Regions from separate parts of the Homo sapiens genome. Here all the other regions are linked to region 1. The links come from fine-mapping of genetic effects on gene expression. A gene starts in region 1. Each other region holds a variant in brackets. All regions are shown on one strand. Distances are between the middles of the regions.

Region 1 (10,796 bases):
CAAAAAGACAGCAATTGTGGTGAAATATTGTATGTTGAGGTCTACTGTACTATTTTTTTTTTTTTTTTAGACCAAGTCTCGCTCTGTTGCCCAGGCTGGAGTGCAGTGGCGTGATCTTGGCTCACTGCAACCTCTGCCTCCCAGGTTCAAGTGATTTTCCTGCTTCAGCCTCCCAAGTAGCTGGGATTACAGGCACTCACCACCATGCCTGGCTAACTTTCTTTTGTATTTTTAGTAGAGGCGGGGTTTCACCATGTTGGCCAGGCTGGTCTCAAACTCCTGACCTCAGGTGATCCGCCCACCTTGGCCTTCCAAACTGCTGGGATTACAGGTGTGAGCCACTGCAGCCGGCCTTACTGTACTATTCTTATATAAGCTTTTCTGTAGGTTTGAAAATTTTCAAAATAAAAAGTAGGGAGGGGGTGAGCAAGGTGGCTTATCATCCTAGGACTTTGGGAGGTCGAAGCAGGAGGATCACTTGAGCCCAGAAGTCCCAGATGAGCCTGAACAACATAGTGAGACTCCATTTCTACAAAAACATAAATTAAAAAAATTAGCAATTAGCTAGGTGTGGTAGTGCGAGTCTGTAGTCCCAGGTACTCAGGAAGCTGAGGTGGGAAGATTGCTTGAGCCCAGAAGACTGAGGCTATAGTGACCCAAGATTGCGCCACTGAACTCCAGCCTGAGTGATCCAAAGAGCCTGTTTCTTTTTTCTTTTCCCTTTTTTTTTTTTGAGACGGAGTGTTGCTCTCTCGCCCAGGCTGGAGTGCAATGGTGCAGTCTCGGCTCACTGCAACCTCCGCCTCCTGGGTTCAAGTGATTCTCTTGCCTCAGCCTCCAGAGTAACTGGGATTACAGGGGTCCATCACCATGCCTGGCTAATGTTTATATTTTTAGTAGAGATGGGGTTTCACCATGTTGGCCAGGATGATCTCGAACTGCTGACCTCGTGAGTCGCCCACCTCGGCCTCCCAAAGTGCTGGGATTACAGGCGTGAGCCACTGCACCTGGCCCAAAGAGCCTGTTTCCAAAAAAAAAAAAAAAAAAAAACTTGGGGTGGGGTGGTGGGGGTACAAATAATGATATTTGATGCCTCAGCTGTTGGGGATAAGGGAGGTGAAGGATGCTCTGGAGCAAACAGTTGGAGTTTGAGTGTCTTTGGGAAAGACGCTTCCTGGCCTTCAGCTCCTGAGGAGCTGTGCTATCCCAGACCTTTTCTCCAGTTTCTTAACAATTCCAAGATCTCCTGATGTGCTTCCAGTAAATTCCCTTTTGTTTAAGTTAACCATAGTCAATTTCTGTCATTGCAACCAAGAATACTAAACATAAAGCTACCATGTATACAATATACACCACATAAGAAATTTATTCCACATCCTTTTAAGGTAATGAAATGAATATGTTTTGAAATTTTGGCAGGGTTGCTATGGTGTTCATGCCTACTAATTAAATGTGTCAAAAGTGAAACCCAGTGCACTTTCCAAAAAGTTTTCCATCTTTGCATATGAACTGAACACAGGGCTAATTTTTTTGCCCCAAACACAGGGCTAATTTTTATTGTGTGCTTCATGGTCAATCACCTCAAGTACACTTCAAGTATACTACACGAATAAAACTCATTGGAATTCAACTGCTGAGGGACACAGAGCAAGAACATGAACCACAGATCATACTTTGAATAAACTTGCCCCAGCTCTGATTAGGACTACATTTCACTTTCCATAAGAAAAAGTGAACTTGTATACAGGAAAATTAGGAGGTGGGAGAATGAGACCATGCCAGGGCATTATTCTTCAGAAAGGTTATTAAAGGAGAAAAGTAACATTTCAATGACCTGCTATGTACAGTGTATACAGTTGATGTCTCTGTTTTTTTTGTTTGTCTGTTTTGTTTTTTTGAGACAAAGTCTCACTTTTTCATCCAGGCTGGAGTGCAGTGGCATGATCATAGCTCATTGCAGCCTCGGCCTGCCAGGATCAAGTGATCCTCCTGCCTCAGCCTCCCAAGTAGCTGGGACCACAGGCACGTGTCACCACACGTGGCTAATTTTTAAAACTTATGTTAGAGACAGGGACTCCCTATGACATCTTGTTTAATCCTCACAACACCCCCTGACAAAGGTATTGTTTTCTCCACTCTACAGATGAGGAATCTGCAGGTGCAGGGGGGTTGAACCTAGATGGAGCCCAAAGCAATGTTTTTATCAAAATGCCATGTTGTCTGAGAGGGGATAATAAGGTATGAAGAGGCCTTCCGGGGAACTATGCTTCCCAGAATTACAGCAGAACATAAATGCCTAAGGCAAAACTTCCACTGATTTCCTCTTTCCCAGCTGAAACCATGGAGGGTATTGAAGACAAGAAAAAGAAGATTCCTGCTGTGCCAGAAACCCTTTAAAAATGTGAGGGAAGGCTGGGCACTGTGGTTCATGCCTGTAATCCCAGCACTTTGGGAGGCCGAGGCGGGTGGATCATGAGGTCAGGAGTTCGAGACCAGCCTGGCCAGCATGGTGAAACCCCGCCTCTACTAAAAATACAAAAATTAGCTGGGCATGGTGGTGCACGCCTGTAATCCCAGCTACTTGGGAGGCTGATGTACAAGAATCGCTTGAACCGGGGAGGCAGAGGTTTCAGTGAGCCAAGATTGCATCACTGCACTCCAGCCTGGGCAAAAGGGCAAGACTCTGTCTCAAAAAATAAAAATAAAACACATGAAGGAATTTCACAGAGCTAAAGGTCAAGTGCCTGAGAAAGAAGTTTGCCCATAAAATGCTTTGAAAAGAAAGGAGAAGGCCAGGCGCAGTGGCTCACGCCTGTAATCCCAGCACTTTGGGAGGCTGAGGCAGGTGAATCACCTGAGGTCAGGAGTTCAAGACCAGCCTGGACAACATGGTGAAACCCCATCTCTACCAAAAACGCAAAAATTAGCCGGGTGTGGTGGCAGACACCTGTAATCCCAGCTACTCAGGAGGCTGAGGCAGGAGAATCGCTTGAACCCAGGAGGCAGAGGTTGCAGTGAGCCGAGATGGCACCACTGCACTCCAGCCTGGGCAATGGAATGAGACTCCATCTCGAAAAAAAAGAAAAAGAAAAGCAAGGAGAAAGCTACATCTATGAAAAAGCTAGGCACTGTCAGATGTGGTGGCTAACCCCTGTAATCCCAGCACTTTGGGAGACCCAGGTAAGAGGATGGCTTGAGCCCAAGAGTTTGAGACCAGCCTGGGCAACAACATAAGACCCCATTTCTCCAAAATATTTTTAAAAAACGGGGGAGGAGAGGAGGTCAGGCATGGTGGTGCGTGCCTGTGGTCCCAGCAACCTCAGGTACTAGGGAGGCTGAGGTAGGAGGATTGCTGGAGCCCAGGAGGTCAAGGCTGCAGTGAGCCGTGACTGTGCCACTGCACGTAAGCCGGGACAATAGGACAAGATCCTGTCTCAAAAAAAAAAAAAACAAAGAAAGAAGGAAGGAAGGAAACATAATTTAAAAAATCAAGTCCAAAAAAAAGCAAGCAAGAAGTAAAAAAAAAAAGCTCAGCACTGTCACAAGAAATATATGGCAAGAAAAGCTGGCAATTTCTATATACCTGTGAAACCCAAATTGTCACTTGCCTTAAGGATCAAATGTATCAATGGTGTGAGCCCAAAACTCTGTTGCAACTTCTTCACTTTCCCCAGATCTTCAATGGCAGCTTTGTTAAACTCAACAAGGCTTCAGTTAACACGCTGAGGATTGTGGAACCATATATCACATGGAGTACCTGAACCTGAAATCAGTAAATGAACTGATCTACAAATTGGTTATGGCAAAATCAATAAACAAATTACCTTAACAGATAACGCTTTGATTGCTAGATTTCCTGATAAATATGGCATCATCTGACTGGAGAATCTGATTCATGAGATCTATGCTGTTGAAAAACTCAAGTTCCTGTGATCCTTCAAATTATCTTCTCCACGAGGGAGAATGAAGGACTACCTATTTTGTATTAATAAAAGGTATAAATGCCAGCAACAGAAAAGACTATATCAACAGGCTTATTAAACGGATAAACTGAAGCATCTAACATTATTTTTGTAATCTGGTCAGTTAATAGCCAGTCACTACTTTCAAACTGGAAAAAACAAAAACCAAAACAAAAATGTGACTGACTCCTTCAAGACCAAAATACACCACTTTTTGCCTAGACGGCACTTTGAAATAGAGGGCAATACCATCATATTTCACGCTTGCCTTTCTACTTTTTAATACAGGTGAACTTTTTCTCCTTAATAGGAAAGAACACCAAGTAAAGAACAAATAGCAGTTATGGAAAATAGTTGCAAAAACTGCAGGGGGCTACAGAACAAAGGACTGAGTGTAGGCAGAGAGATAGAGATCCCCGAGGTGTGGGGCAGAGCCCACGCATCTGAATTCCAAGAACAGGCGCTTTCTGACAGAGAATACCAGGAAATGACTTCACATTTTTCCAGACTATCAACATACTTCATTCTTCCCAGTAGGAGAACCCAGGGCCTGTTCCACGCCCACAGACTTTGGTCAGGCAAAGCGGCCGCAGGGCGTCTGGGCTAAACGCAACCAGGAACACATTGGCAAACTTTTGCGCCTGCGCCCACCGGGCGTGCACCTGTAGGCTGAAGTCGCGCATGCGCTAGATGGGAACGTTGTTTCTTCTCCCCTACCCCTTTTCTGTGGGTCTGTTTTAGGGACAGACTGCTTCCGGGTCGAAGGGCTTGCTTCCGGAGAGCGGGAAGGCTAAAACGCGGTAGCTAAACTGCAGCCAACTTTGGTTGTGTGTGGAAAAGGCTTTAGCCATGGACAGGTCAGTACTGATGGTGGCAGCTGAGCCCGAAGTCTTGCCCGTCTCGCCTGTTGGCGAAACGAAATAGGTGAAACTAGACTCCCAGAAGAAGCCAAGGAGGTCCCGGGTGCTTCCCCTAAGGCTCCTTCCCCATGCCGGGAAATTTGGCCACAAATGGGGAAAAAGCCGCTTGGCGTGCGTCGGGGTGGGGTACAGATCATAATAGTCCCTTACTTTCCCACTACGTTCTGCGATCTATTCGGCGCTTTGGGGCAGCAACACTGTTCGCTCCTGGGGTGGGCGGGGTAGGTAGCGCGGCGTTCGAAATGCTAAGTGACCAGCCTGAGATCACAAAGCCAGTCAGTGAAGATACTGGGATCTCAGCCCAGACTTTCTGATTACAAGTGCCAGCATCAGATTCTGAGTTCCCTCTATGATCTGGGTACTGTGCTAGCCGCCTACAACAAAGATCAGTTATTCAAGATCCTTCCCCTCGGGGAATTAGTTGTGTAATGGAGACAACCAAGCAGTGTAAAGTGGTAAGTGTTTGGGGGCGATTAAGTCTCCTTGTCACTGTAACTATCAGGAAGACCCCTCAAAGAAGGTAACTTTCTAGCTGGTCTTTGAATAATAAGAGTACATTATTCGTACTCCAAACATTGAGTACCTACTATGTGACTGCCATTGTTCTAAAGGCGTTGAATATATATTATTAGCTTATTTAATCTTCAGAACAAGAAAAATCCTATGAGATGGGTACTGTTATCCTTTTTTCATATATAACACTGAGACTAAAAGAGGTTAAGGAACTTGCTGAAAGTTCGGAAGCTAATAAATACAAGAACCAAATTGCCAACCTGCATCTGTGTGTCTCCAGCCTACCTGAGGCTCTTTGAGGAGTAAGTAGTTGTTGACCAGGTGCTCAAGGGGGCAAATGTAGGTCTTTGTAAAAGAAGCATATTCAGAGGTGCTAGGATATGAAAAAAAAGTACGTGTAGCTCAGTGGTCACATGCAGTATACGTTTAAAGTGATGTTTGTGGCTGAATAGAAGACTGAACCCCTAAACTGGGGTCACATTGTAAATATCATTTTAGGAAATTTTTACTTCTATAGACCAGAGAGCTATCTGAAGGTTTTTTTTTTTGTTTTTAATTTTAATTGTTAAACGTTTAAAATTGTTTCTATGTGGTTGTTTCCCATACTTTCCTGCTGAAGGAATATCTGAAGGTTTTAAGTGGAGGAAAAGCATATTAGATTCTTGTCTTAAACACAGGCCTTTTAGTCCGCACAATTTAGTTTCTAGACCTTTGAGTGAAACTGACAGGGAGTGTTGTGATGGGACAGGAGACCTCCTGGGTTGAAATAACTTGAAGGGTCATTTTGCTCCAATTTACCACAATTCTTTTACTTACCCTTCTATCTCACAAGCTCTGTTTGTTGTTGTTGTTGCAAGCTCTGTTTGTTGTTGTTGTTGTTTGTTTGTTTTTTAATAGTACCCATGGTTTAAAGCATTTTGGAGACTGCAGAAAATCTTTTAAGAGAGAATTCCTGCAGTTAGGTAACTCCTCAATCCAACAAGGGAAATAAGATTCACTTTCATGAAGCAATTATCTAAAACAGTGTTATAATATAGATTCCAAGTGTTGAAATAATTCCTTAGGAGAAAATAACATAGTGAGTACTAGAAAGTCAGAGAAGTCTTTGTGCAGGTAAGATTTGAGTAAGGCTTTGAAGAATAAGCAGGATTTGGAGCCAGGAGTGCGTTCTCAACAAAAGATCTAAGACTTGGCTACTAGAATGACTATACCTTAACTTACTCAGGGTCCTTTACTCCAACTGTGATGATAAAATTCTTTATAAATGCTATATTCTCGTTTCACTTATATAAGCTTGATTATACTACTTTAGGAGTGGCTTTGGAGAGATATCATCCCCTGTAATCCGGGAGGCAGAGGTGACACGGACTGCACGGAAACAGAGTGCTCAGAAAAGAGTTTTACGTATCCTTTGCGATTTAAGCATCATTATAAAAATTGTAACATGTTTGGAATCAGTGTTGTAGAATTTTCTTTTTATAAGAGTATTAAATGGTAGCTATAATAAAATCCTGTAGAAACTTTTTTTCACTCCACAGAGCTGTCATTTGGTAAATATAATGCAAAAATTTAATGAGATCGTATTTCCCTAAAAATAAAGATATTTCTTACTGCTGACAGCTTCTGCTGAGATTAGATTTCTTTTTATTATTTGAAAACTGACTAAAAACATTTAGTTCAGTGTGTAGTTATCTAAGACTGACATCTGATCATTTAAATGGCAGAAGCAATGAATTATTTACCCTTTGCATTGAAAAATGGTAGCCCTAAAATACTTGTTCTTGAAAAATGTATTCACATAATTTGTATAGTAAAAAGATGGTTAATTCTCATTTTAGTGATCTCTTTTCTACATGGAAAACTTTTCTTAACTCGTTGTACAGTTCAGGCATCTCAAGATGAAAATTTTGGTAATACTACACCAAGAAACCAGGTTATCCCTCGAACTCCTAGCTCATTTCGACAGCCTTGTAAGATTTTTTGCTTTTAAAGCATTTAATAATAACGGTAATTATAATAGCAACTAACATTTATTGTAACATAATTAGTATAGTATTTGGTTACGATATCAATAAGCACTAATAATAATGATTGCAGTTATTATTCGTTTGAACTCTTGCCATGTACAAGGTACTGTACTTTCCATAAACACACGGTAACTATGACATGGGTATTGTTGGCCCTGTTTTACCAAAACTGAAAGTGAGACTTAGAGAAGTTAACTAATATATACAATAAGTATGTAAATAGGCTGGATGCAGTGGCCCATGCCTATAATCTCAACACTTTGGGAGGCCAAGGTGGGTGGATCACTTAAGGCCAGGAGTTCAAGACTAGCTTGGCCAACATGGCAAAACCCTATCTCTACTAAAAATACAAAAATTAGCTGGCGTGGTGGCACATGCCTGTAATCCCAGCTACTCCGGAGGGTGAGGCAGGAGAATTGCTTGAACCCGGAAGGCAGAGGTTGCAGTGAGCTGAGATTGTGCCACTGTACTCCAGCTGGGGCGACAGAGCAAAAAAAAAAAAAATCCCAGTTCCATTATTTACATACTCTTTTTTTGTTCTGAGACAGAAAAAAAAGAGTATGTAAATAATGGAACTGGGATTCAAACAATGATCTGTTTACTCCAAAGTTTATGCCCACTACACTGCACTGCCTCAGTATGCCTTATAAAATTAAAATATGAAGAATCCGTTGACTGATTAGTGTCTTTAACTGCTCAGTTATTCTATAATGAAAGCATCTGTAATTGCAGTAAAATGTTTCCTGTTAGGCTCAGTAGTACCTACAGCTCAAATTTAGAAAAATAAGTTAAATCCTTGTATCATGGAAATGTTAACATTTAAAGTATTTATTTGGTTAGAGTCTAAATAATGGAAAACTGAAAAATTTATTCTTCATTGTTTGTTTGCTTACTTTGTTTTGATAATGAATGCTCACGCACTTTAGGTTCTTTCTACCAACCTTTTGTTTATAGTTACCCCAACAAGCCGAAGCTTACTAAGGCAGCCAGATATTTCCTGCATTCTTGGAACAGGAGGGAAGTCGCCCCGACTTACGCAGTCTTCAGGGTTCTTTGGAAATCTCTCCATGGTATGTAGAAAAATAGGGCTAAGAACTCCTTTTGGGTCGAGTGTGGTGGCTCACATCTGTAATCTCAGCACTCCCTGAACTCCTGACCTCAAGTGATTCTCCCGCCTTGGCCTCCCAGAAGTCAGGAGTTTGAGACTAGCCTGCTTAGCATGATAAAACCCTGTCTCTACTAACAATAAAAAAATTAGCTGGGAGTGGTGGCTTATGCCTGTAATCCTAGCTGCTCGGGAGGCTGAGGTGTGAGAATTGCTTGAACCCAGGAGGCAGAGGTTGCAGTGACCTGTGATTGCAAAAGAAAAAAAAAAGAGAAAAAAGAACTTCTCCCTTTTTATAAAAATATGATATTTGATGTAAAAGTCTTTTAACAAATATTGAGTCAGAATCATCATAACAGTAACTTTAGGTTATATGGATTGAAATAATTAGACAGTAAAAAAACTGAAAACCTTATGCATCTGATATCACAGATGGAAACTGTGACACCAGCAACCTTTAGATGAAAATAAGATGTTTTAATCTGTCAGTTTGCTGACCAGAAGAAGTACATGCTGTGGTTGGTTGCTGATGGCTATAAAATCTGATCCCTGTTTTGAAGCATACAAGAGTAGGAATCAGAGGTTAACAGATGAAGAATATCTTAAGGAAGAGATAAAATGTATTAAAGGGGATAAAAGAGAAAATTGGAAAAAGTAGGTGAGATACTCTTTAGGAATCACTATGGAACAGTATTAAAAATAGCAAAAGAAATGTTATGTAAGCTGTGATGCAGAATGACTTCACCTAAGTATTAAAAATACACTATAGTAGCCGGGCATGGTGGCTCACATCTGTAATCCCAGCATTTTGGGAGGCTGAGGCAGGTGGATCACATGAGGCCAGGAATTTGAGACCAGCCTGGCCAACATGGTGAAACCCCATACCTACCAAAAATACAAAAATTAGCCAGGCGTGGTGGCACGTGCCTGTAGTCCCAGCTACTTGGGAGGCTGAAGTGGGAAGATGGCTTGAGCCTGAGAGGCAAAGGTTGCGTTGAGCCATGATCGTGCCACTGAACTCCAGCCTGGGCAACAGATCCAGACCTTATCTCAAGAAGGGAAAAAAAAAAAAAAAGACGCATACATACATATAATTTTTAGAAACCTTATTTGTTTTTAAAGTATCCACTCAGTGACAATAACTCCATCACTTTTCTGTATTTTTACTTTTTTGTTTTTTTTTAAGGTTACTAATCTGGATGACAGTAACTGGGCAGCTGCATTTTCATCACAGCGTTCCGGGCTGTTCACAAACACAGAGCCCCACAGTATAACAGAAGATGTAACTATCAGTGCTGTTATGTTACGTGAGGATGATCCTGGAGAAGCTGGTAAAATGGCATTGAGCTTTGTGACAAGTAGCTTTTCACTTTAGCAAGATGAAGGAAACCATTTCTTCCTGTTTCTGAACGTCATTATGTTTTTCTTTTCTTTCTTTCTGTCTTTTTTTCTTGAGAGAGTAGCTTAAACAACAGATTTTTGTGTGTGTGTTTTTTGAGACAAGAGTCTCACTCTGTTGCCGGGCGCGGTGGCTCATGCCTATAATCCTAGCACTTTGAGAGGCCGAGGCGGGCAGATCACGAGGTCAGGAGTTCAAGACCAGCCTGGCCAACATGGTGAAACCTCGTCTCTACTAAAAATACAAAAATTAGTTGGGTATGGTGGTGCACACCTGTAATCCCAGCTACTTGAGAGGCTGAGGCAGGAGAATCGCTTGAACCCGGGAGGCAGAGTTTGCAGTGAGCTGAGATCGCACCATTGCACTCCAGCCTGGGCTACAGAGCAAGACTCCGTCTAAAAAAAAAAAACAAAAAAAAAAACAGTCACTCTGTCACCCAGGCTAAATGCAGAAATGCAGTGGCACAATCATGGCTCACTGCAGCCTTAACCTCCCAGGCTTAAGCAATTCTGCAGCCTCAGCCTCCTGAATAGTTGGGACTGCAGGCATGTACCACCATGCCTAGCTAATTTTTTTTTTTTTTTTTTGAGATGGAGTCTCGCTCTGTCACCCAGACTGGAGTGGAGTGATGGGATCTTGGTTCACTGCAACCTCCGCCTCCCAGGTTTAAATGATTCTCCTGCCTCAGTCTCCAGAGTAGCTGGGATTATAGGCGTCTGCTACCACACCCGGCTAATTTTTGTATTTTTAGTAGAAACGGGGTTTTGCCATGTTGGCCAGGCTTGTCTCAAACTCCTGACCATGGGTGATCCACCCGCCTTGGCCTCCCAAAGTGCTGGGATTACAGGTGTGAGCCACTGCGCCTGGCCG
Region 2 (10,796 bases), 27 kb after region 1:
GTGTAAAGAATCAATATACCAGGTAAGAGCAGCTACAATTGATGTAGCAGTTTGGAATTTACACAATAGATACCTTTCAATGATGAATATACAGATTTACTATGTGGTAAAATGTTTATGTATAGATGATTAACTGTACTTGTTTCATACTGGCTTTTTATCTTTCTATTAAAATAATATTTCTTAACAGCATCTTCTTTTCATTCTGTTTATCCTTTTAATATTTTTCATAATAGGCTGTTAATGCCAGTGAAAAAACAGTTGTGGAAGCGTTATTTCAGAGGGATTCACTTGTTCGACAAAGTCAGGTATGACTAGAATTTAAAATTTTTTTTTATGAAACATGGAGAAAAGGTTAATGACATGCAAAGTACTGAAGTGTTTTTTAACTTAAAACTGTTTTCTGAATTTTTTTTCTACTTGATCTTTTTATTTGCAATTAAAAGGAATTAGAAACCTTATTCTTTGATTTTTAAGTAATAGCCCTAGTATTTTCAGGAATAGCCTGTTAAAAACGATTATTCCTATAGAAAATTTTATTCTTTTGCCATAATATTTATTTATCTTAAAGTAAAAATAGTGTTTGGAAAAATTGTTACTTGATATTTTTAAAATCAGAAACTTCACGCCTGTAATCCCAGCACTTTGGGAGGCCAGGGCAGGCAGATCTCGAGGTCAGGAGATCGAGACCATCTGGCTAACAGTGAAACCCCGTCTCTACTAAAAATAAAAAAAAAATTAGCTGGGTGTGGTGGTGGGCGCCTGTAGTCCCAGCTACTTGGGAGGCTGAGGCAGGAGAATGACGTGAACCCAGGAGGCAGAGCTTGCAGTGAGCCGAGATTATGCCACTGCACTCCAGCCTGCACGACAGAGTGAGACTCTTTCTCAAAAAAAAAAATAAAAAATCTGAAACTGTTTGAATTAAGGGTAGTAGTACCACTACAAATAAAACACAAATAGATTTGGTAGTTAACACTAATTTATTTTTTTCTTTCTTTCTTAGCTGGTGGTAGATTGGTTAGAGAGTATTGCCAAAGATGAAATTGGAGAATTTTCTGATAATATTGAGTTTTATGCAAAATCAGTATATTGGTAAGTTACCAAACTTTAATTCTTAAGGTCACTCAATGTTGATATTGTTCATTCATCTTTCAATAAGTATTATTCAGTTTTTACTTTGTTCACACTACTTTGTTCACACTACTTTGTTTGGTGTGTGAGCAAAACAAATAAAGGCTTTGCCTTTATGGAATTTATAATTGTTTAAGAGAGTTAGATAGCTGATTTGCAAATATACAGTTGGCCCTCTGAGTTTGTGGGTTTCGCATCCATGGATTGAACAAACTGCAGATCAGAAATAATTGGAATAAAACAAGCCGGGTGTGATGGCTCACGCCTGTAATCCCAGCACTTTGGGAGGCCAAGGTGGGGGATCACGAGGTCAGGAGTTCCAGACCAGCCTGACCAACATGGTAAAACCCTGTCTCTGCTAAAAATACAAAAATTAGCCGGGTTTGGTGACGCACACCTGTAATCCCAGCTACTTGGGAGGCTGAGGCAGGAGAATCGCTGAAATCCAGGAGGTGGAGGTTGCAGTGAGCCGAGTTCATGCCATTGCACTCCAGCCTGGGCGACAGAGCAGGCCGTCTTAAAAAAAAAAAAAAAAAACAGAAAAGAAATAATTGGAATAAAACAATAAAAATAACAAGATAAAAAAAGTAATACAAATTTAAAAATATAGTATAATAGTTATTTGCATAACATTTACGTTGTATTAGGTATTCTAAGTAATCGAGATGATATAAAGTATATGGGAGAACATGTGTAGGTTATATACAAATAATACAATATTTTATGTAAAGGATCTGAGCACCCTTGGATTTTGGTATCCAAGTAGGGTCCCCTATGGATACCAAGAGACAAATGTATATTCTGTTGGGTATTCCGAGCTTTGGGGAAAAAAATGAATTAGAGGCTCGGCGCTGTGGTTCACACCTGTAATCCCAGCACTTTGGGAGGCTGAGGCGGGTGGATCACGAAGTCAGGAGATCAAGACCATCCTGGCTAATGCGGTAAAACCCATCTCTACTAAAAATACAAAAAATTAGCCAGGCGTGGTGGCGGGCGGATCACGAAGTCAGGAGATCAAGACCATCCTGGCTAATGCGGTGAAACCCATCTCTACTAAAAATACAAAAAATTAGCCAGGCGTGGTGGCGGGCGCCTGTAGTCCCAGCTACTTGGGAGGCTGAGGCAGGAGAATCGCTTGAACCCAGGAGGCAGAGGTTGCAGTGAGCCGAGATTGCGCCACTGCACTCCAGCCTGGGTGACAGAGTGAGACCCTGTCTCAAAAAATAAATAAATAAATAAAATAAAAGTAACTCAGAAGGGAGATTGTTTTTAAAGTAGGAGATCCTGAATTCTGTATTTAAATACTGATATGACAGGAGCTTGAACCTGGGAGGCAGAGCTTGCAGTGAGCCAAGATCGCTCCACTGCACTCCAGCCTGGGTGACAGAGCGAGACTCCACCTCAAAAAAAAAAAAAAGGATTAGAATTAATGGATAGATACGACAGGGAGTCCTACTTTAAATTGAAGAGAAGGCTTTTCTAAGGTAGTAAGAGACTTTTATGAAATAAAGGCAGCCAGCCATGCAAAAATCTGGGGGATAACTATTCTGAGCAGGAAAACAAACTGGAATGACCCAGAGAACGTAAAGTGTTTGCACAAAGAAGCCAGTGGGAACACAGCAAGGAAAAGAATGGTAGAAAACAAGACTGGAGGAAGCCAGATATAGGGCTTTTACAGGCAGACAAATGTAACTATTCTGGACTTTATTCTAAATGTGATGGGAAACCTTGAGAATAGAAGAATGACATGGTCCAATTTATGTTTTCAAACAATCACCTGCCTGCTTTTTTCTTAATAAGATTATTGATCATATCAGAAGATGATCTTCTGATTGTCAAGAAGACACTTCTGTCCTGTTTTCAGCTACTTGTGTGGGTTTGTTTTGTTTTGTCTTGCTTTTGCTTACACTCTTCAGTACTTCTAAATTATTATAGGCCCTTGAAGCCAGAAACCTCCCCTAAGTTAAAGGGACAGTTTATTTTAAGTCTTGCAAAAGATTTTTAAAAGGTCAGATTGTGGCTGGGCATGGTTTAAGACTTGCAAAAGATTTTTAAAAGGTCAGATTGCGGGCAGGTACAGTGGCTCACACCTGTAATCCTAGCACTTTGGGAGGCCAAGGCAGGTGGATCACCTGAGATCAGGAGTTCAAGAGCAGTCTGGCCAACATGGTAAAACCGCATCTCTACTAAAAATACAAAAATTAGCCAGTCGTGGTGGCGGGCACCAGTGAGCCAAGATCACGCCATTGCACTCCAGCCTGGGTAAAAAGAGCAAAACTCCATCTCAAAAAAAAAAAAAAAAAAAAAAAAAGTCAGATTGCCAGATTGCCTTTGAATTCAGTAATATGTGTACAAAGTCTGTAAGTCAATTATATATTTTCTCTGCTTAGCTAGGAAATTACTGCTACTAAGCATTTGTTAAAAATTAAATCTTAAGTGGATGTGATTTTTTTTCTGAAAGGAAGTTTTCATTTTCAGAAAATAAGTTTTTTTTTTTGTTTTTTGTTTTTTGTTTTTTTTTTTTAGTTAAAATGCCCTGTTGGGTTTTTACAATTTTTAATGAGTTAATCTCCTTTTTTTTGCTGATCAGCGGAACAGAACAGAGAACCCCACAATAGATTCACACTGATATGGTCATTTGGTTTTCAACAAGGACATCAAAGCAATCCAGCAGGGAATGGAATGCCTTTTTTACAAACTGCAGAAAAATGATATCTATGAGAAAGAAGATTAACCTTGATGGCTCCCTCACTCCATACCCAACAATTAATTCAAGATGTGTCATAGTCCTAAATGTAGAAGCTAAAAACCATAAAGCTTTTAAAGAAAAGCATAGGAAGATATCCTAGTAACTTGAGAATAGATAGATGTATCTTAGCTCATAGAAAGCAATAATCAGGCAAAAAAATTGGTTTGACTTTATCAAAATTAAAAATGTATCATTAAAAAAACACCATTGGCCAGACATGGTGGCTCACACCTGTAATCCTAGCACTTTGGGAGGCTGAGGCAGAAGGATTACTTGAGGCCGGGAGTTCAAGACCAGCCAGGGGAACACAGTGAGACCCCCATCTCTACAAAAATATTAAAATGTTAGCAGGGCATGGTGGCGCGTGTCTGTAGTCCCAGCTACTCAGGAGACTGAAATGGGAGGATCACTTGAGTCCGGGAGGTCGAGGCTGCAGTGAGTCATGATTGTGCCACTGCACTTTAGCCTCGGCAACAGAGCGAGACCCTGTCTCCAAAAAAAAAAAAAAAAAACCCACCATTAAGAAAATAAATGGGAGCAAGCCACAGACTGGGATGTGTAGTTCATAAAGAACTATAACTCAATAGTAGAAAGATAATCCTAGTAAAAAGGGCAAAAATTTGAACTGATACATCACGAAACCAGATAGATGAATGGCCAATAAGGACATGAAAAAGCCCTCAACACCATTAGTCATCTGAGCTAAAATGTACTTCTGTATTAAGGATTTTTGCATGTTTTTACTGGGATTGTAGTCTGTCTTTCTTCCTTTGACTTGATTTGATTTTTTAAAAATAGACCTATTAAAATTACCTCTTAAAAAATTTGGTACTTATTATTTCTTTCAGGGAAAATACTCTGCATACCTTAAAACAACGGCAGCTGACTTCTTACGTTGGAAGTGTTCGTCCGCTTGTCACTGAATTGGTAAATGTTCTTTGAAATGAAAGTTGCCTTCAAAGTTAACTGATTTTTTTTTTCAGGCTGAGAATTTTTTCTCGTGGATCTTTGTTTTGCTCTTCTAAAGGTTTGCACACACTAACATTTTACTCTAAAACAACTAAGTTGCATTGGAATCTGATGGAATATATTGAAACATATCCGTGACCTTTGAATTGTAAGTAATAAGTTGTGGAAAGTATACTTAACTTGACAGCATTAAAAACAAATTAATTTTGGTCTTATCTTAAGATTTGACTGCCTATATAAGGTAGTGACTGACCTATGAAAGCTCTTTTATGTTGAAAGCAAGTGAAAAAAAACTAAAGCCTTATTGGTTTGAGGTTAGAACGGTTATTTGAAAAGTGGATTTGAAAAGAACTGAAGCTGAATTATTCTAAAAACAAAGGAATGAAGCTTTATGACAGGGCACGTGAAATGTTTATAGTGAAAAGAGAGAAATAAGTAACAATTGAAAAAAACTTCTAGAATTCCATTTAGTAACAAAGAGGTTTTTGATGAAAATTGTTTGGGAAAAAGAAAAAGAAAATTGTTTGGAAACTACTCTTAACAGCTTAAAATTGATTATAGCTAAATTACATTGTAGCAGGCAACAGCTGAAAATCGTTTAATCTTACCAGCTGGAAAGTGGTGATTTCCTTTTGCCAGAAAGAGACCATGTTCCAAAATTGAATTATGTGTTTGCAAAATATTTATGAAAGTAGTGAATTGATCTATTATGTATTCCATTTTCTGAATTGATATTCATATTACCATACACTAAGTAACATGTGGAGTAAGAATTACTTCCTTTCTTGAGTCACATTAAAATTGTTTTCCATTGGAA[A/G]TCCATCATGTAGATCATGTGTGCTGTTTGCTGCTAAAGTGAGAACAATATATTATCCTAAATGCTTAGAAGCACATGGAAAAAAGGTAGGTAGAAATAACTGTTTTGGGAGATTTGTACTTATTTATTAGAAATCTGTTTAAATTTTTTTATTAGGCATTGGTGTTTTTTATGTGGCATTAATCCCAAAATAGGTCTTAATAGGCCCTCTTCCCATATGTTCTCAAAAAGTACCAGGTAAGCACTTTGTAGTCACAGAACAGAAGGTTTTTGCTTTGTGTTCTTCTTCCATCTAGGTCTAATTCTATTTAAACTTGACCATGTAGCTGCTGTGATAGAGTGAAACTCAAGTCATCTTCTAGTGTTACCTGGGCTGGGATAGGCTAGTAGTATTTCTGCCTTGCCTGACTGAGGCATGCCCTTTGTGGGCCAACTGAGTATGTTTTAAGTAGGGAAGCAGATGACTATGTGGCTATTTGGAACACTTGTAATCTTGTGAGAGCTTCATTCCCTTTGTTACTTAATTAAATTGAAACAATTTATTTCAGCCAGGCGCAGTGGTTCACGCCTGTAATCCCAGCACTTTGGGTGGCCGAGGTGGGTGGATCATGAGGTCAGGAGTTCGAGACCAATCTGGTCAACGTGGTGAAACCCCGTCTCTACTAAAAATACAAAAATTAGCTGGGCGTGGTGGCGTGCACCTATAATCCCAGCTGCTCGGGAGGCCGAGGCAGGAGAATTGCTTGAACAGAGGAGATGGAGGTTGTGGTGTGCTGAGATCGCGCCACTGCACTCCAGCCTGGGCGACAGAACAAGACTCCGTCTCGGAAAAGAAAAAAGAAAAAATGAATTTATTTGTGTATAAACTCAGGATAGGTTTATCATCTCTTGATGATGTGTAAAATGTATGTAAGTACAAAGGATTTATGGTTGATGATGACTTTTTTTTCTTCTTACAGGACCCTGATGCTCCCATAAGACAGAAAATGCCCCTTGATGATCTGGATAGAGAAGATGAAGTTAGATTACTCAAATATCTCTTTACTCTAATCCGTGCTGGAATGACAGAAGAGGTCAGTCATGTATACCCTTCTTGTCTAATTTCAAAAAGTCATAGACTCTTTGAGTTGGAAGAGATTTTTGTGGCTGCCTAGTAAGCCTTCTTAATGTAGTAATTCCATTCATGGTATTTCTAGATCTAACTTCCTGTTCGAACATTTCCGGTGATAAGGCACATGTAACTTGAGAAAACAATGTAATCTAGTTTGTACAACTCTAATTAATAGAAAATTATTTATAACAAGTCATACTTTTCTTCCCCATATTGCACTGCATACTCTAGGTATATCCCCATTATTTATTTTTTTGTTCCGTTTGAGATTTTTGTTTTTGTTTTTGTTTTTTTTTTGAGACAGTGTCTTGCCATGTTGCCCAGCGTAATCTCAAACTTCTGGCCTTAAGTGATCCTCCCGCCTTGGCCTTAAAAAGTGCTGGGATTACAGGCATGAGACACTGCACCTGGCCCAATCTCCATTCATTTTTTTTTCCTTTTTCTTTCTTTCTTTCTTTCTTTCTTTCTTTTTTTTTTTGAGATGGGATCTCACTGTCGCCTAGACTGGAATGCAGTGATATAATCATGGCCCACTGCAGTCCTTACCTCCCGGGCTCAAGCCCTGCCTCAGCCTCCTGAGTAACTGGGACTACAGGTACACGCCACTATGCCCAACTAACATTTTTATTTTTTGTACAGACGGAGTCTTACTATGTTGTCCAGGCTGATCGTGAACACCTGGGCTCAAGTGATCTTCCTGCATTGGCCTCCCAAAGTGCTGGGATTGCAGGCATGAGCCACTGCACCTGACCCAATCTTCATTATTTCTAATTCTGATTTTTCAGAGTTTAGAATAAACCTAACCCTAATTCTAGGTGATACTATTTAGGCACTTGAAGGCTACAATGGCCCTCAAACTTCTTCCTTTTAACCTTACCTTTTAAAAATGTGGGTGATAGTTAATATCTTATATGTAGAATGATAAGTATCTAATTGGACAGTTTACCAGATGCCTCTTTAGGTGAGATAGTGTGATGTGTAGGAGTTTGGCTTCAGTATTATGTTGTACTTGGTTTACAGTACTTTTTGCAATGGTCTTTAGACAGATTCTATGTCAGTTCAAAGTGTTGTTTGTTTTCTTCTGTGCTATCAACCATAAGCATATATTAATTTCTTATGTAATTTCTTTTTTTTTTTGAGATGGAGTCTCGCTCTGTCACCCAGGCTGGAGTGCAGTGGCGCGATCTCGGCTCACTGCAACCTCCGCCTCCCAGGTTCAAGCAATTCTCCTGCCTCAGCCTCCCAAGTAGCTTGGAATACAGGCACACGCCTCCACGCCTGGCTAATTTTTTGCATTTTAGTAAAGACGTGGTTTCACCGTGTTGCCCAGGCTGGTCTCAAACTCCTGAGCTCAGGCAGTCCGCCTACCTCAGCCTCCCAAAGTGCTAGGATTACAGGCGTGAGCCACCACACCCGGCCATGGGATTTATTTTAAAAAACAAAAATACAATCATATTATTGAAGGCTCAAAAAATAGAAATTCTCAAGGTCTCACTAGCTTTATAAAACCACAGATAGTGAGTGTTTTGTATTTACTTATAGCCCTTTTTCTTTGGTCTTCCTTTTTAAGGTAGTTGCAGTCATACTATACATTCAAGTTTTTTCCCTCTTTTTTAATAGCAATTTGAGATAAAATTTACATACCATGTAATTCACCCATTTCAAGTGACACCATTCAATGGTTTTGGTATATTACATTATTGATTTTGTGAATCGTATAATATATATTATTATATTATATAACAAAATGTGCCATTTTAATCATTTAAGTGTGCACTTCATGGCATTCATTACATTAACAGTATTGGGAAACCATCACCACTGTCTGTTTCTAAAACTTTTTCATCAACCCAAATACAAACTGTAACCATTATATGCAGTAACGCCTCATTCTCTTCTTCCCTCAGCCCCTGTAACCTCTAATCTACTTACTGTCTCTATGATGTATAGGTAGAATCATACAATGTGCTTTTGTGACTATCTTATTTCACTTAGCATAATGTTTTCAACATTCTATATTGAGTTTTTATCCTGCCTTTTTAAGATACCATATCAAAATAGTTTTCCATGTTAATTCTTACATAGCTCTCATAGATTTTAAAGGCTATAAGTTCAGAATGATGTTAGGGGTATGATATTCTTTAACTAGTTGTATCAATCAGGCTTTCTGGGTTCAAGTGATAGAAACCCAACCTAAGTTACTTTATGCTTACAAGAGGAGAATTGATTGGCTCATGGAAGTGGGAAGTATAGAAGGTATATCTGGCTTTCAGCAGGATCCAGGAACTCCAAAGATATCACTAGGATACTGTCTGTGTCCAAGACCCATAGCTCAACCCTCCTCTCTGTGCCTTCATTCCCAGAAAGCTACTCCCCATGTTGTATCAGAGATGGATACAAGAAGCTCCAAGCTTACATGGAGCTAGCAATCTCAGTAAAAGGAGTATATTTTCTTTCCCAGTATCTCCACCAAGAGTCCTGGTGGTGAATCTTGTTAGCTCACATCCCTAACCTTAGATTTCTGGAATCGGATCAGGCCTATCCAAAACACAGGAGCCAAGAATGGGGAAAAGGTGATTCCCTAAAGGGATGATGGAACAAAAACATGTATTTACCTTACTGGTATATAAACACATTGACTTACTGACTTATTGGTCAAGTTGAACATGCAGTATCATCAGTGGAGTAAATGAGCAGTAACAACCTTGTCATTAGAGACTGTTTTTTTAATAGTTTTTCATAAATCAGAGGTCATCAACCTCTTTAACCCCATTTGTTTCTAGCAGAATTAAATGCCAGTGGGTGCCGTGGGAACGTATTGTTAAGCCTAAAGTCAAACAGAAAAGGGATTTTTTAGAAATAAAAACAGGGCCAGGTATGGTGGCTCATACCTGTAATCCCAACACGTTGGGAGGCTGAGGTAGGGGGGATCCCTTCAGTCCAGAAGTTCGAGACCAGCCTGGGCAATATAATGAGACTCTGTCTCTACAAAAAAATTTAAAAAAGAAAGAAAAATAAAGGCAGAGGCCACAGAAAGGCATGCATATGTTTTAAAAATAGAATGCCATTATGTATGTATGTATGTATGTATGTATGTATGTATGTATGTATGTATTTATTTAGTTTTTGAGACAGGGTCTCACTCTGTCATCCAGGCTGGAGTGCAGTGGCGCAATTTCGGCTCACTGCAACCTCTGCCTCCTGGGTTCAAGCGATGCACCTGCCTCAGCCTCCCGAGTAGCTGGGATTACAGGTGCCTGCCACTGCGCCTGGCTAGTTTTCCTGTTTTTAGTAGAGATGGGGTTTCACCATGTTGGCCAGGCTGATCTGGAACTCCTGACCTCAGGTGATGCACTTGCCTTGGCCTCCCAAAGTGTTGGGATTACAGGCGTGAGCCACCACGCCCAGCCAGAATTCCATTATTAACTGTCTACATCCATCCCTTGTAATGGGATGGATGGAACATTTGTTCCATAAGTTATCTAAGCTTGTCATATATTGGTTATACTTTACTATAAAGCACCCTGGTTATTGGACTGACTGCTCTTTCTTGTTTTCTAAGGCACAACGACTCTGTAAACGCTGTGGTCAAGCATGGAGAGCTGCAACACTTGAAGGCTGGAAACTGTACCATGACCCTAATGTTAATGGAGGTATTTTAGTAGATTTTATTCTGACAGTTGAGGACAAAGGCATTTCGCTCTAAATGCCAATCTTTGTGAACTATAGCTTCTCTTTTTAGAAAGAATTGTAATAAGGTCTTATTTTAAACCAGAAATTTTCTTTTGCTATTTTATAGGAACAGAATTAGAACCTGTTGAAGGGAATCCATATAGACGCATTTGGAAAATAAGTTGCTGGAGAATGGCAGAAGATGTAAGATAAATAAAATATTCAGTGATACTGTTTTTAACTCCAATTAATTGAAAGCCTATTCAGGGGCTGTGAAACATTGAAAGTAGTGTAAAACTGGTTTTCAGAGAATTTCCAATTAAATTGAGGAATAGGCTTAACTACTT
Region 3 (10,796 bases), 250 kb after region 1:
GAAAAAAAAATTTAGTGTTAAGAGTATGAAAGATAACAGCAAAATAAAAGGTTAGCCTAATAGAGTAAAATACTGAAGTTTAGAGATTTTAGAGGTGATCTTCTTTCTTTCTTCTTTTTTTTTGAGATAGAGTCTTGCTCTGTTGCCCAGGCTGGAGTGCAGTGGCACAATTTTAGCTCACTGCAACCTCCACCTCCCGGGTTCAAGCAATTCTCCTTCCTCAGCCTCCTGAGTAGCTGGGATTACAGGTGCCCACCACCACGCCTGGCTAATTTTTGTATTTTTAGTAGAGACGGGGTTTCACCACGTTGGCCAGGATGGTCTCGAACTCCTGGCCTCAAATTATCTGCCTGCCTCAGCCTCCCAGAGTGCTGGGATTACAGGTGTGAGCCACCAGGCCTGGACCTAGAGGTGATCTTTCTAAGTATGGCACCATTAAAGGTAAAACCATAATAAAAAGGCTAATAATTTGAAAACATACAAATGTATGACTTCTGTACAGAAAACCTTATAAAGGTTATAAGAAGAAAGGTTTAAATCAGGTTATGAGAAAAATTACAAGCTGGAAGAAGGAATTAATGCTCTTACAAAATAAAGAATGAGCAAAGGAGATGAATAAGCAGTTCATAAAAGCAGTAACACAAATAGCTAATAAATATAGTAAAGGTTACCAACCTGGTAAGCAATCAAAGAATTACAAGTTAAAAGGGTAAAGTAATACTTTGTTTTGCTTATCACAAAGCAAGATTAAAAAGATTGACAATACCTGGAAGTAGACAGGATCTCAGGAAATGACATTTATGCTGTTTCAATGGTGTTCTAAATTAATACAATCTTTCTGGAGGGAAATCTGGGAATAGACATCAAAATTTTGTATGTGCCATTCCTTGCTAGAAATTTATGCTATAGAAGTAATTTGAAGATGTGTTGAGTTTGTATATGTTAGGAGCTTCATAAGTGCTGCTGCTTTAAATTGTGACAAAGTAGATAAAACCTAAATGTCAAACAACAGCAGATTGGTTAGATCAGTGGTTCTCAACTTGAGGCAGTAGTGCCCACAGCAGACATTTGGCAATATCTTGAGACATTTTTGATTGTCATAACTAGGGATGGGAGCTACTGGCATCTAGTGCTGATACAGAGGGCAGGGAGGCATTAAATATCCTTCAGTGCACAACACAGCCTCCCACAACAAAGAATTATTCAGCCCAAAATGTCAATAGTGCTGAAGTTAAGACACCCTGGGTTAAAGAATATTATAGCTGTACAATTAATTGTTTTTCAGCCATAATAATGTCAATGTAGATCTGCATTTATTCACTTGGAAAGACAAATTGTTCAGGCAAGAAGCAGATAATAAAAGTAAAATAAATAGTAAGATCTCATTTAGATAAAGCAAACAAAAAAAAACTATTCCCAGCAATGTGTTTCTAAGGTTACCAACATGCTGAGTGCAAATCCACGAGTTGCAATGTTTTAATTTTCTTTTTTACATCTTTCTGTATTTTCTGAAAAGTTTTTCCACCAAACATGCATTGCTTTTTTAAATTGGAAAAACAATGAAGGCATTTTAATTTAAAAGCAAAGCAGAGGAAAAAGCACAAAAGTGTTAGAGAGGACCAATGACTAATTCTGAATGAAAACAGGATCAAAATATCTTAGAGTGAATTACAAAAGTGAAGAGGAGGTAAAGATCACTGGAAATGGGAAATTAAGGAATGAAAAAGCCAGAGTGTTGGATTGGTTCTGTTTAAGGACTCTGAATTTCCCTAAGATAGTAGCAGGAATTGGGACAGAGGGAATAACTATAGTCGGGGCTAAGTACCTCAATAGATGTCAACAAGAATGAGAACAGTATAACTAGACTTTGTGACTTTCAAACTTTTTTCTTTGAAAGTGTCACAAGAAAATCTGAACAAGATAAAAGAAAAATTTTAAACTTACAAATTTTACTTACCTGGAAACAACCATTCTTAAAACACATTTAGGGATGGGGCAAGGTAGTCCCAGCTACTGAGGAGGCTGGGGCAGGAGGATTGCTTGACCCCAGGGGTTTGAGGTTGCAGTGAGCCATGATCGCATGGCACTCCATTCTGGGTGACAGAATGAGACTCTGTCTTAAAAAAAAAAAATCCCCAAACCCCAAAACAATCAAACAAACACACACACATTTAGGTATTAACCAGCGCCCTAATGTGGCACATTTGTTTCTGGTATTTCTTTATTATACACAGCACATCTAGAAACATTCTCAGAGCTAAACCTTTGAGCATGTCCTTACCTCCTTAGGATCATTTCTTAGACATGTAATTGCTAGGTTAAAAAGCATGTACACTTTTAAGACTTAAAATATTTGGCCAAGTTATACTCCTATAAAATGTCAAATGTATAATTTAAAAAATGTTAAAAAGTATTCTCATACAAATATAGAGTAAGCACAGTTCAAGTTTTAATTTTAACTTATTAATGAGGAAACCAGCAGGATAACAAAGCCAGTTCAAAGAAAGACATGAGAAAATATGTGTGTATACACACACACACACACGTATATCTATATGTGTACATATATATCTATATGTGTATATACATATATTATGTATATCTATTTATATATGTACATACATATATATGTATATGTGTATATGCATATATGTATAAATATGTGTATATATCTAAATATACATAGTACATATATGTAAGTATATAGATATTATATAAATATATCTGTAAGTATATATATAGATATTATGTACATACATCTATAAGTATATACATAGATATATGTACATACATCTATATATGTATACACATATGTATCTATATATACATTTACTACATACATATATGTATGTATATATGTACATATATCTATAATAATATATACATAATATATGTATATGTTATGTATATATGTATGTACATCCCATAATGTATATGATGTCTATACATATAGACATCATATATGTATATGATGTATATACTTATGTATATTATGTACATATATACATATAGTATATGTATTATGTGTACACATACCTATATACATATTGTATTTATATTATGTATATACATACTATATATAATATACATATGTAAATATACATCCTATATATATACATAAATATATAAAAAAGAATACTAAAATCATTCTACATTATTGCTAAATTAGATATAAATCTGATTAATGTCTTACAGGGTGATAAACCATAATGTTTGGTGCTATCTTTACAGAGCAAAATTATTTTCATCTGTGCAGGACAGAAATTATATCTCCATTGGACAAAAATATAGCATCTCACCAATTTTCTACAAACTAACATTTGAATTTACAGTTGTAAAATGTGCAAATCTGTAATAACGAGTCAGGATTCAATTCACCTTAGATGGACTGGTTAGGCAATGCCTAACATGAAAACAAATTATGCAATCATATTTTGCTTTCCAAGTTTTGAAAAATTTTTTCTGACCAAAGGTCATTCCAATTTACAGTCCTCACTGGTGATATGTGAAAATGCCTGTTTGGCTCCTCATGATTACTATTATCTCTTTTAAAAATGTTTGCCAATTTCATAGATAAAAATGAAATCTCATAATTTTAAGTTTTAGTATTAATGTGACTGAACATTTCTCTCATAGTCTTATTGAACATTTATTGTTCTTCTTTTAAAAAATAGTCTATTAATAGCTTTTGCTCATTTTTCTGGTTGTGTATTAGTCTTTTCCTTCTGGATTCATAGTTTTTTGATATATTCTTAGAAAGTTTATTCTTAAATTATAAATTAATTTATATTTTCTTCTATTTTTATTTCTTTGGTATTTTTATTTTTTCATTTTTCTTCTTTCATCTCATTTTTTAAAATTAATTTTTTTAGAGCAGTTTGAGATTTGCAGAAAAATTGAACAGAAAGTATAGGGTTCCCATATACCCTTTTCCTGCCCTACCCACATACACAGTTTCCCTTATTATTAACATCTTGGCGTTAGCGTGTCACATCTGTTAAAATTGATGAGCCAATATTGACACATTATTATTAACTAAATCTATAGTTTATATTGCATATGCTATGAGTTTTTACAAATGTATAATGGCATGTATCCAACATTACAGTATCATACAGAATAATTTCATGGCCCTAGTGATCCCCTGTGCTCCACCTATTCATCCCTCTCTCCCTCCCCCAGATTTATATTTGTAGTCCACTTGGAATTTGTTTTCATCTAGTATGTGAACTATGTGTTAATTGTGTGAAGACATTGTTCTGTCAGGACAGATTCCAATCCTTAACCCCTACCTACGAAAGGTTCTCCTGAAGTGTATATGCCCAGAGCACCAGGCCAGGCAACACATCCTTCTTATTACCAAATGGGGCTTTGGTCTCCAAACGTTTGAGTAGGACCACCATCCAAATGAGAAGGGCACTGAGACTTTTAGCAGTTCTCAATGAAACAACAAGAAGAGAACACCTTAACATGTTGGAATTGGGTTGCAAATTTTTCTTTATGATAAAAGATGGCCCTTTATTCTGAGACCATGTCCTTCCTATATTTTTTAAATTATTGTGCTATAAAACATATAAAATTACCATCTTAACTGTTTCTAAGTGTACAGTGCAGTTGTGTTAACTCTATGCACACTGTTGTGCAATAGAGCTCTAGAACTTTTTCAAACCTTGCAAAACTGAAACTCTATACCCACTGAACAACAACCCACCTTTTCTCTCTCTCTCCTGCTCCTGGCTACCAACATTCTTTCTAAAAGTCTGACTAGTTTAGATTCCTAATATAAGTGGAATCATGCAATATTTGTCTTTTTGTGACTGGCTTATTTCTGTTCCATTGGTCAATTTGTGTGTTTTTGTGCTACAGAAGTAATTTGAAGATGTGCTGAGTACGTGTGTGTGTGTGTGTGTGTGTGTGTGTGTGTGTATATAAAGCTAACACATCAGCTGAGAAACAATGTCAGGAAAAATCTAAACATTTGAAATTAATTTCAGTTCAGGAAGTCACCCCAAATAGTGTGAGTGAAGCATCAAATGGTCGCTCAGAAATAACTCGCCCAATAAGGTAAAACTTATTTTACATTATTTTGTTTTTTGTTTGTTTGTTTGTTTTTGAGACAGGGTCTGGCTCTGTTGCCCAGGCTGGAGTGCAGTGACGTGATCACAGCTCACTGTAGCCTTAACCTCCCAGGCTTAAGTAATCCTCCCACCTGAGCCTCCCGGGTAGCTGGGACTACAGGTGTGTACCACCACGCATGGCTATTTTTTTGTGTATTTTTTGTAGATACAGAGTCTCACCATGTTGCCCAGGCTGGTCTCGAACTTCTGGCCTCAAGTGATCTGCCTGCCTAGGCCTTAAAGACACATTTTCTTGAAATTTCACAAGTAGAATATAATGCCTTATACTAATGCTGCTCAATGATTCTTTCTATTGTCTGCTGCTTCTCATGTATCTGAGGGAGTTTGGGCATTTATCTTAAGCTGGGATCTCCTGGTACCTCCCCCAGTACTAAACCTACCTCCTTCAAAGTAGCTCCCCCAACTCAGATCAGTACCCCCAGCAAAACCGGATTTGTTTGTTTTTGATAAAAAAGGAAAGTGACCTTGCAATTCTTCAGAAAGGAAAGATTGCTATTTATAGCTAGAGATAAGAAAATTGTTAGTGAAAAGCTGGATGGTTTTTGTTAAGGTCCAAGATGATCCTTTCCCTAAACTACCACGGGTGATGTCTAAACAGTGGGACTCAGAGATTGAAAGAATATGTCTCAACTCAAGCATTCTCTGTTTAAAACAAGGACTCTGTAGTCTTGGCTGTGCATCTTTTAAAAATTGTTCCTTTATTTTTTTATTAGTAGACTTTGTTTTTTAGAACTGTATGTCTTTTTAATAAGCATTTCTCTAGAAATT[G/A]TGGCTGTGTTTTCTGTTTGTTATGCAAGTTGTCTATCAAAAACCAAACAGAGTAGTTCTTTTATTTTGGATGTGCAACTGTAAATGCATTAGTATTCCTTTGAGAGATTTAGAAAGGATTTGTATACACATTTGTGTTCGTGATAAATTTCTGAATCCTAGAATTTTTCATGGCACAAAGAAAGAAAAGGACTAAAAAAATGCTATCTACATAATCAAAAAGCGTACCATAGGAAGAATATAAAAATACACAGCAATGACTATAAAATCATGCACCGTTATCACACTATTGTCCCTTGTTGGCACTATGTCACTGTGAGAGTAAACCTATTTCTGCTTTGCCCCACTCTCTGATTTTTAATTATTCATTCATTTCCTTATCAATTATTTATTGTTTACTCTGTGTCAGGCACTGCACTTGCTCCTAGGGAATACGACTGTAAACAAGACAGAACAAATCTCTGCCCTTAGGTAGCTTACATTCTACAAGAGCCAAAAATCTCCACTAAAGAATTTCACATGTTCAAAGAAACCTGTGATCTTTCTTGGGGAGCTGGCATAATATTACTTTCTGCTTCTTGTGTCTTATCCCCTAGTGGTTTGTACCACATTCTGTACTGCACAGCATGACCTTCTTAGCTTCACATTCTATCTACTGTTGGTGAAGCAAAATTAAAATGTAATCAGATCAAAGTTTGACACTCCAGTATGCCCTAACACATCAGCTGAGAAACAATGTCAGGAAAAATCTAAACGTTTGAAATTAATTTCAGTTCAGGAAGACACCCCAAATAGAGTGAGTGAAGCATCAAATGGTGTCATTTTTTGTTTCCCCCATGGCATCTAGGTCAGAGCTCAGTGCATGCTTGCTGATTTATAAGTGTTATTCTAGGAAGAATATAGCATCAAGAGATTATATGTAATAACTAAAATAGTAAATTATTAAAAGTAAGGTCTGTGGAACCACACCATCTTAGCTTAAACCCCAGCTCTGTCGCTTACTGTGTGCCCTGAGCAAGTCACTGCACCTCTTGGTGCATTCATGTCCTTTTCTGTAAACTGGGCTAACTCATGGTATTGATCTTAGAGGATTATAGTGACCTTACAGGGTTGCATATATTAAATGAGTTAACATATACAAAGAGTTTAGAACAAACAGTGTCTGGCCTGTTATAAATGCTTTATAAGTCCCAAGCTGAATTCATTTTTATTATTATTACCATCTAGTGAAGATGAACAAGACAGAAAGGGATACAACAGATAGTATATGTTTATATTTATCTTATTTATTTCCACATCCCAGCTCCTTCCAACATATTTGCAATAGTGGAATAGACCTTTATCAACCATAAATTTGTGATAATTTACAATTACAAAGCAATTGTTACAATAGTGACTTTTTCTCTTAAACTCATGGTCTTTGAGTGCAAAATAATGCTTACTTCTCCTACTATACTTTGTTTATATTATAGATTTGCAAGAAAGCTTCTTGGCTCTAATAAGGCCGATTTCCAAAGCAAAGACAGTCCTATTTAGCTGCATTTAATCTGGATTGTGTGATATCAAACAATCTGACATAACAGCAGATGAAAGTCATACTCTTGTCTCTTAGGAAACAATATACTTACTGAAATTTATTTCTTTTCTAGCTTTGTTTCAAATGTCGAGAAAACCATTTCTGGATTTTTTTTTTTTTAAAAACTGTATATTTGAGAAAGAATCTGCCATCTTTGTTAATACCCTGTACCTGTAGCAGAAAGAAAGGCAGGGGGAGTGTGGGAAGAAGGGAAAAATGTATATATAGCAGAGTGACAAAGAGACTGTTTGAAGATAGTTAATAATTTGTAAGTTCATCTAATCATTTACTTTTCAATGACCCTTTTGAAAACAGCATACATCATATCTATTCAACAATGACCTCTGGAAAGTCAAATTATAAATATACTCAGACAATAGCCAAACAAATTCTTTTGTCTCCTCATGACTCATGATTAATTGGTTCATTCATTCCTTCTGTTGATAATTATTTAATGAACATCTAATAATATGCTAAGCACTATGAATACCATGGTGTAAAAGAGAAACATAGTCCTCACTTTGATAGAGTTCATATTGTATTGGGAAAGATGATACAGAGATAAGCAGTCACTCAGTTGCCATTTTGATGCCTATTACAGAAAGAAAATTACAGGATATTATGAGACATACTATCAGAACGTACTTACTTTTTTTCTTTTTAGACAGTTTCTTGCTCTGTTGCCCAGGCTGGAGTGCAGTGGTATAATCATAGCTCACTGAAGCCTTGAACTTCTGGGCTTAAGCAATCCTCCCATCTCAGCCTTCTGAGCAGTTGGGACTACAGACACATGCCACAACACCCAGATAATTTATTTTTTGTAGATATGGGGCCTCACTTCGTTGCACAGGATGGTCTCAAACTCTTGGCTTCAAGTCATCCGCCCAGCTCAGCCTCCCAAAATACAGGAATGATAGGCATGAGACACCATGCCTGGCTCCTTCACCTTGTTTTTTGTTTTTTTTTTTTAAATTACAATAAAGAAGTGACAAGGCAGCAGAGCAGAAAGACTGGAGTTACCACTCAAATCAGTCTTTCTGAGAACTCAGACGTTAGGATTTTTAAAGATAGTTTGGTGGGCGGGGACTAGGTAATGGGTACTGCTGATTAGTTGGGAAAAAAATCATAGGGGTGTGGAAAACTGTCCCAGTGAGCTGAGTCTGCCTCTGGGTGGGGGCCACAGGACCAGTTGAGTCATGAGTCATGAGTCCAGGTAGGATCAGTTGATGGCCAGAATACAAAAATCTGAAAAACATCTCAAGAGACCAATCTTAAGTTCTACAGTAGTGATGTTATCTATAAGAGCAATTGGGGAAGTCACAAATCTTGTGACCTCTGGCCACATGACTCCTGAGCAGTAAGGGATTATAAAAGTATACCTATACTTTAGCAGAATTCAGGTCCCTCCAATAACCCTAATCTTGTGGCCTTTCATTAGTTTTCACTCTCTAAGCAAGGAGGAGATTAGTTTTAGGGAGGGACTGTTATCATCCTTGCTTCCAAGTGAAACTATAAACTAAATCCCTCCCATGGTTAGCTCTTTGTGCCCCCAGGAATTAGCAAAGACAGCCAGCCTGTGAGACTAGAAGCAAGATGGAGTCAGTCAAGTTAGACTTTTCTTGCTGTCATAATCTTTGCAAAGGTGGTTTCAGTTCCCTCCCTTGTGCTTCAGCACACCTCAATCCTGAGGTGTGAGCTGGGGAGATGGGAAAAGGCTGACAACTGCTCTTCCTGTTGACAGGGGGTATAGTTGGGGCAAGGGTTGCCCCCAAGGTAAGAGGAGTGAAACCATTTTGCAGTTGTCTGTATGTATTCCCAGGTGCCTTGTTGGGTCCCCAATGTTGGTATAACAAAAACGTTAGTATTCTTATCCACATCGTTAGTATAGCACTTAAGAGAACAGTAAACTACAAGAGACCTAATGCAAGGTGTGAAAGTCTTAGCTTCAGGAGTCCTTGCAGAACTGATCTGAAGCCTTGAGGGATTCAGGTAAATATCCCCAAGAACCAATCAGATGTGAGTCATTAGTATAGGCTCACAAACAATGGACAAGGCTAGAATTTTTTTCTTTTCTTTTCTTTCTTTCTTTTTTTTTTTTTTTTTTTTTTTTGAGACAGTGTCTCACTCTGTTGCCCAGGCTGGAGTGCAGTGGCATGATCAGAGCTCACTGAAGCCTCGACCTCTAGGGCTAAAGTGATCCTGCCATCTCAGCCTTCCAAGTAGCTGGGACTACAGGTGTGCACCACCACACCCAGCTAATTTTTAAATAATTTTTTGTAGAGATGGGGTCTCCCTATGTTGCCCAGGCTGGTCTCGAACTTCTGGGCTCAAGTGATTCATCCTCCTGCCTCGGCCTCTCAAAATGTTGGGATTACAGGTGTGAGCCACTGTGCCCAGCCAAGGCTAGAATCTAATAACAGGCATGCTATAGGTTTTTTTTGAAACATAATTTTTCCCTCTCCAGTTTTCCCCCATTTTTACCAAAGACAAATCATAGCAGGACCAATTTATTTGCAAAATAAGCTTTGGTTTTATTTATACTAGGCCTAATTGTTTGCATGAAACATAACATGAATAATTATTTGCTATATAGGCCTTTTTAAAAAATTGGCTTTGCTGGATGTTTTTTTAATAAGGAATCTCAGATTAGACCTTTTAAAAGCATCTTGAGCCCAGCCAAAGATTTATTTGTGCCTGCAGATACCTGTATGAATTGAATGAATTCCTCATTTCTAGAGGTACCAAAATAACTTGGGATTCCTAGGCCTATCAGAAAGGGACATTTTTACTTACCACAGGTTGGGAACCTTGTAAAAACAAGGTGGCCAGTTTTTCCAAGGAATTTTTATCAGCTCTGTAGCTCAACCTCAATTCCTCAAAGCAGTCTGAAAAGTCTGAAAACATGTCATTCCAGTCAAAGCCTTGGTAAAATAACTAGTGTCTCTAATAGTGTCCTGTTACAAAAGAAAACAGATGCTTACTGAACTTATGCAAATAGCGATACTACCATAAATTAAGTATACGTAGACATAGTTTCCAAATTACAGAGAAATAAGGTAGAGAGAAAGAAATGCGCTCCAAAATTTGCTCACTGGAGTGTATTTTACTCAGTTGTTAAAAGCTGTAAATAGCTCCAAATAAAAAAGTTTTCTTGACTCTGAAAAACACAAAGAATAAGCAACGTTTTAAGCAAAAAATCATAAAAAGATTATTTTGGTCTTCTGTTTGCTCAGTCCATGCAAATAACTCCTGTTCTGCTCAATATTCATGAACACATAAGCTCTCCATGAAAGTCCTAGAAGTTTTTTCCCTCT

The links.
Region 2: its variant is fine-mapped to the expression of NUP107 in tibial nerve (GTEx, PIP above 0.99). The same link has a PIP of 0.9 or more in B cells, Th1/17 cells, Th2 cells, caudate, esophagus muscle and follicular helper T cells.
Region 3: its variant is fine-mapped to the expression of NUP107 in cerebellum (GTEx, PIP 0.97).

Annotation. Positions count from the first base shown.
Region 1 is chr12:68,682,255-68,693,050 of GRCh38, forward strand. It overlaps NUP107 (nucleoporin 107), which reads left to right and starts at 4,724. Exons shown (of 28, transcript NM_020401.4): 1 at 4,724-4,819; 2 at 6,708-6,799; 3 at 7,279-7,365; 4 at 8,377-8,492; 5 at 9,714-9,858. The coding sequence starts at 4,812. It overlaps LOC100507250 (a long non-coding RNA gene), which reads right to left and starts at 4,605. Exons shown (of 3, transcript NR_038930.1): 1 at 4,483-4,605; 2 at 3,609-3,763. It also overlaps the pseudogene RPL7P42.
Region 2 is chr12:68,709,002-68,719,797 of GRCh38, forward strand. NUP107 (nucleoporin 107) reads left to right here. Exons shown (of 28, transcript NM_020401.4): 9 at 237-308; 10 at 1,004-1,092; 11 at 4,729-4,807; 12 at 6,626-6,739; 13 at 10,340-10,430; 14 at 10,577-10,653. Among named protein-coding and RNA genes, the nearest start is that of NUP107, 27 kb to the left of the region's middle. The variant A/G (reference allele first, on the strand shown) is at 5,667.
Region 3 is chr12:68,936,279-68,947,074 of GRCh38, forward strand. It overlaps a transcript of CPM not described here. Among named protein-coding and RNA genes, the nearest start is that of CPM, 8.5 kb to the left of the region's middle. The variant G/A (reference allele first, on the strand shown) is at 5,907.